2 separate regions of the Homo sapiens genome follow, and region 1 is linked to region 2. Evidence: fine-mapped expression QTL. A gene starts in region 2. The other region holds a variant in brackets. All regions are shown on one strand. Distances are between the middles of the regions.

What was found.
Region 1: its variant is fine-mapped to the expression of HOTAIRM1 in whole blood (INTERVAL, PIP above 0.99).

What each region holds. Positions count from the first base shown.
Region 1 is chr7:26,922,350-26,925,369 of GRCh38, forward strand. It overlaps the pseudogene RPL7AP38. Among named protein-coding and RNA genes, the nearest start is that of SKAP2, 59 kb to the left of the region's middle. The variant T/C (reference allele first, on the strand shown) is at 1,546.
Region 2 is chr7:27,094,742-27,097,241 of GRCh38, forward strand. HOTAIRM1 (HOXA transcript antisense RNA, myeloid-specific 1) reads left to right here and starts at 1,353. Exons shown (of 2, transcript NR_038367.1): 1 at 1,353-1,647. It overlaps HOXA1 (homeobox A1), which reads right to left and starts at 1,259. Exons shown (of 2, transcript NM_005522.5): 1 at 520-1,259; 2 at 1-54. The coding sequence starts at 1,171. RefSeq lists enhancers at 1-347, 1,229-1,523, 1,649-2,221 and a silencer at 1,576-1,745.

The DNA of each region.
Region 1 (3,020 bases), 170 kb before region 2:
TTCACCCAGGCCCTGCACCACCAAACAGCTACTCAGTTGCTTCAGCTGGCCCACAACTACAGACCAAACAAGAGAAAGACAAAGCAAGAGAAGAAGCAGAGGCTGTTGGTCCGGGCTGAGAAGAAAGCTTGCAGCAAAGGGGACATCTCCACTAGGAGACCACTTGTCCTTCAAGCAGGAGTTAACACCGTCACCACCTTGGTGGAGAACAAGAAGGCTCAGCTGGTGGTGACTGTACATGATGTGGATCCCATCAAGCTTGTCTTCCTACCTGCCTTGTGTCATAAAATGGGGGTCTCTTCCCCTGCATTATCAAGAGGAAGGCAAGACTGGGACATATAGTCCACAGGAAGACCTGGATCACTGTCACCTTCACACAGGTGAACTTGGAAGACAAAGAAGCTTTGGCTAAGCTAGTGGAAGCTATCAGGACCAACTACAACAACAGATACGATGAGATCTGCCGTCACTGGGGAGGCAATGTCCTGGGTCCCAAATCTGTGGCTCGCATTGCCAAGCTTGAAAAGGCAAAGGCTAAAGAACTTGCCACCAAACTGGGTTAAATGCACACTGTTGAGATTTCTGTACATAAAAATAATTAAAATAATACAAATTTTAAGAAAAAGAAAAAGGGCAGGAGACCACCCATTGCAGTGGGCTATGCACTGGCTGAAGAATCCTTTTTTTTTTTTTTTTTTTTGAGACGGAGTCTTGCTCTGTCACCCAGGCTGGAGTGCAGTGGCATGATCCCAGCTCACTGCAAACTCTACCCCCCGGGTTCAAGTGATTCTTCTGCCTCAGCTGGGATTACAGTGATTCTTCTGCCTCAGCTGGGATTACAGGCACCTGCCACCATGCCCGGCTAATTTTTATATTTTTAGTAGTGACGGAGTTTCACCATGTTGGTCAGGCTGGTCTCGAACTCCTGGCCTCAAGTGATCTGCCCACTTCAGCCTCCCAAAAGAATCCTTCATCTTTAGTTTGCAGTGAGAAAGAAAGAACCACATAAGACTCTGCAATGGAGATACTGGAGTACAAGATTAGCCAGGGACAACTTTCTAGTTTAATGTGCAGAGTTCTGTGAATCTTTTTGTACTAAGTTTTCAGGAGTCTCCCCACCCTGAATTGGGTGTGCAGCCACTTTTTGATCCACTGGCACATAAGGCAGACACTGTGCCTAGTCTAAACAAGAAATGTTTCTCTCTTCTTCCCTGGTAACAAAACTCCAATTTGTATTCAGGTTTTTGAAAGAGATCCCTTGATTTCAGGAAGGGTAGACCCCTACCTCAACAACAAGGAATGAGCTGAAATTGGTCTAAATCAGTCATAGTAATTTTCTTTTCTTTCCTCAGGGATTGGCCAATAAGTGGGCACATGACTGAATCCTGGCCAAGGAGACAAAGGGAAAGTCCACTAGGGAAGGCTCTCTTGCTAATAAAAAGACAAGACTCCACAAGTAGAATGTCTCTACCAGTCTTCCTTCTTGTCCTGAACATGGACATGGTGACTGGAGCCATGGTAGCTATATTCTGGCCAGGAAAATGA[T/C]GAAGAAGCTGGCCCTGAAATCATTGGATTACTGAACTGACTCAGGCAACTGCCTACCTCCAGACTTCTTGTTATGTTAGAAATACAAAGCTCATTTGTTTAGGCCTGTACAGATGACTTTTCTATTTCTTGCAGTCAAATGCATTCTGATACTGTGCTTTGTCTACTTATTTCTTACCTCTGCCCTCTGACAGATGAGGCCCAACCCATTTTTCTTACTTGGCTTTATTTGAACAAAGATTCTAATAAGCACAAGAAACCACTCTGTTGATAACTCCTCTAATATAAAAGGAAAGAGTCATGTTCTGTAATAAGTATTTTGTATCCAATTGGTTTATAAATTGAAAACACAGTTTAAGCAGAAAGATAAAATCAAATACAGTCTCTTGCCTACTTACTTCTCATCTCTCTCTCTCATTTAGTTCAAAGAGACATAAAGTGACACCACTCCATCATTTTTGACAGAGCCACATGTGTAATGCAAAACATATGCTGAAGTTTTGTAATTACTTGGGTTCCTTGAGCAGAAGAGAAATGAGCTCATTGTATGTTCATGGTCTCTTCTCCTTCTGTGTCACCTGCTACCATACCAGGTTGATGCCCTCTCAGACATCAGTTACTACAAGCAATAATTATCATTATTATTCTAATGCCTTACATATGAATGCCGTTTGGCAATATTTCAGAGTGCTTTTAAGTTAGTTCTCTCCCTGAAGGCTCACAACTCTACCACTTACCTGTCATATCACTCCCATAAAAGATTACTGTAGAGACTCTGAGGGAAGGAATCCGCATTTTAGAGGAGAGATGTCATTTTCCTTCTCCCCTAAGTCTAGATCTGCTGCAGGCACAAATGGCCTCCTACTATCTGTTCAACCCCACTCCTCTCCTAAACTAATCATGACCAGCACCAAGAGGGGTGTGGAGTTAGTCTTGCTGTCTATAGCAAAGTAAAAATTCACAAGCCTGCCTATGGCCCTCTGGTCCTTCATCCTAGTGTAGGTATTTTTCCCACTCTGATCAGACCTCTGCTAGGATTTTCTAAGGTGATATTGGAATCTCTTACTGGAAGAAGAGTTCTATTCGAATCTTGGGCCTGATTCACTGCCAAGCCTTTGCTGATCACTTAGGCCCACAGACTAGATTTCTGTTCTAAACTGGATTGATCTTCTACTAAAATGTAAGTAATATGAAGCCAGAGAATGTGCTGTTATTTTACTGCACTATCCCTAGCACATAAAATAGATTCTCATTGGTTCACAGCAAGTGATTGGTAAATATCTGTTGAATGAATGAATGACTCTGATAACCATTCCTCACTAGAGGTTTCTGCTACTGTGTCCTAAACACCAGATTAAACCCCTTGGATACTGACATTAACCTAAGCCCATTCATAGCTGCCTTACCTCTTCAAATGACAAATATGAGCTGTTAGACACCTCTTCACTACAGACCTCCTGTTTCCACTTTCTTTC
Region 2 (2,500 bases):
AGTTGGTGCGCACCGCGTTGGGTTGACCCAGGTAGCCGTACTCTCCAACTTTCCCTGGGGCAAAGTGGGAAGCCATGAGACGGAAATGTAAAAATTTTTAAATCGACTTGAGATTCCCCACACGCTTCATGGCAACACTCAGGTAAAGAAAAGATCAAGAACTCAGCACAAATCGGGCTGTGGAGGGTGAGTGATGAGGTGTAAAGTGTTAACCTGATGTAAACCATTAGCATGGTCAGACCGGTGATTAATGGAGCCTCAAGATATTAACAGAACACTACCGTCACAATAACCACCCCCACATACTTCCTATTTCCCAAATGTATAAAATCCTTGAAAACACACCAATCCCTGAGACTTCTTTGCCCCAACACCTCTGGGCACCCTCTCCATGCACTACAACACTAGTCTGATACAAAAGCCTTTTAAAAAAAAGATCATTATTAATTTCCTTGGAAATTAAGCATACCAGCTCCTTCCAGAATAATCAAGGAGCATCCACCAACCAGCAGGACTGACCTGTTTTGGGAGGGTTTCTTTTGACTTTCATCCAGTCAAAAGTCTGCGCTGGAGAAGATGTCTCCGATGCGGGGGAGCGACAGGCTTCTTGGTGGCTGGCGTGGAGAGGGGACAAGGAGTTATTATACGTAGCCAGGGCCAGGCTCTGGTGCTCCTGTCCATATGAGTGGTGAATGTATTGAGGCGAGCCCACCGCGCCCCCAGCATAACCCTGGTGGTGGTGGTGATGCTGGACCATGGGAGATGAGAGATTTCCAGAGTAAACAGCGGGAGCGCACTGGGGGTACCCACCACTTACGTCTGCTTCCTGATTTAACGCGTAGGGGCTGTAAGGCGCACTGAAGTTCTGTGAGCCATAGCTTGGACCACAACTTGAGTGGGAGTAGGACACCCCCAGGTTCCCGGAAGTCTGGTAGGTAGCCGGCTGGGGGTGGCGATGGTGGTGGTGGTGGTGGTGGTGGGGCGAACCGATCTGCACCCCCCTGCCCACTAGGAAGCGGTCGTCGCCGCCGCAACTGTTGGCGCTGACCGCGCACGACTGGAAAGTTGTAATCCTATGGTCCGAGGGGTAGGCTCGGGCTGAGCAGGTCCCCGAGTCGCCACTGCTAAGTATGGGGTATTCCAGGAAGGAGTTCATTCTTGCATTGTCCATCTGTCACTGAGTGACCTGGTCCTGCGAAGCCCGGCGTGACTGTGCCAACTTTCTCACTTCCTCCATGGGGCCGGAGAAGAAAAATGATATGAATGTACAGTGCGCAAGAGGGGGGGCGGGAGGGCGGAGGACGCTGGAGGAGGGGCACGTGACGGTGTCAGCCAATGGCTGAGCCTCCTGCAAAAGTTTGCCGGCTTCCGCAGTGATGGATCACCGTTTTAGTGGCATTTAAATCCCCGGCGCTCCGCCGTCTAGGTGACGCGCAGTCGCCCCCCCAGGCAGCCTAGGCGGCGGCAGCTGCTGCGGCGACTGCAAAGGCCGATTTGGAGTGCTGGAGCGAAGAAGAGCAAAAGCTGCGTTCTGCGCGCGCCCGACTCCGCTGCCCGCCCCGCCAGGCCTCCGGGAGGTGGGGGCTGGGAGGCGTCCCCCGCTCCCGCCCCCTCCCCACCGTTCAATGAAAGATGAACTGGCGAGAGGTGAGAAGGGAAGAGGGCTCCCGGCTCTCTCGGGGCGGGAATCAGTGGGCCAGAGCTCGCCGGGTGGCCGCAAGTACGCCGGCCCAGCCCGCAGCGCGCCCAGCCGGAAGGCGGGGAATCCGGCTGACACCGCGCCCCGGGTTCCCAGGCCACCTCCTCTGTTCTGAGGCTGGGCTGGGAGACCGTGGGGCTGTGAGGAGCGCATAGAACCGTGGTGGAGGGCGAGGCTGGGCCACCGGCTCTTCAAGCTCGGAATGGAGGGGGAAGAGCGCAGAGGGCTGGCTGGGAGGAACTCGGGTGGGCGTGAAGGAGACGAGGGCAAGAAAAGAAACTTCCCTTCTTCCAGGAGGGTCTTCGAAACCCTCTCCCCACAGCCCCTCTCGTCATTAGCATGGCAATGAGGAGTTTCTGTAATTCGACTTGGAGGGGCGGATGAGCCCTGGAAACTCAGAGCTCGCCGGAAAAGGCCGGGGGCGGCCGGGCTCTTCTTCCCCACCTTCCCTCTCTCGTCGCTCTCCGCCCCTTTCTCTTTCCCACTCAGTTTTGCACCGGGAGCCCTCCGGGATGCGGAGCTACTCGACCGCCGGATTTTTAGGGGTAGGAGGCGGGGGAGAGAGATGACGCTGGCGGACGTGGCCAGCGCGGGGGCCGGGCGGTGCGCTGCAGGCCATCTGCCGGCGCCCTGAGACCCAGGAGCCTCCGCGCTCCCGCGTGGGCCTCACAGGGCCGGTCCACAGCTCCAACATAGTAGCTGAACTCCCTTCGTTGCGTTCCTCTTTTTCTGGAGGGGAATGTTAGAAGAGAGAGAGAGCTTCCTTTTATAACCTTCCTCATTCTGCTGCACGTCTAGAGT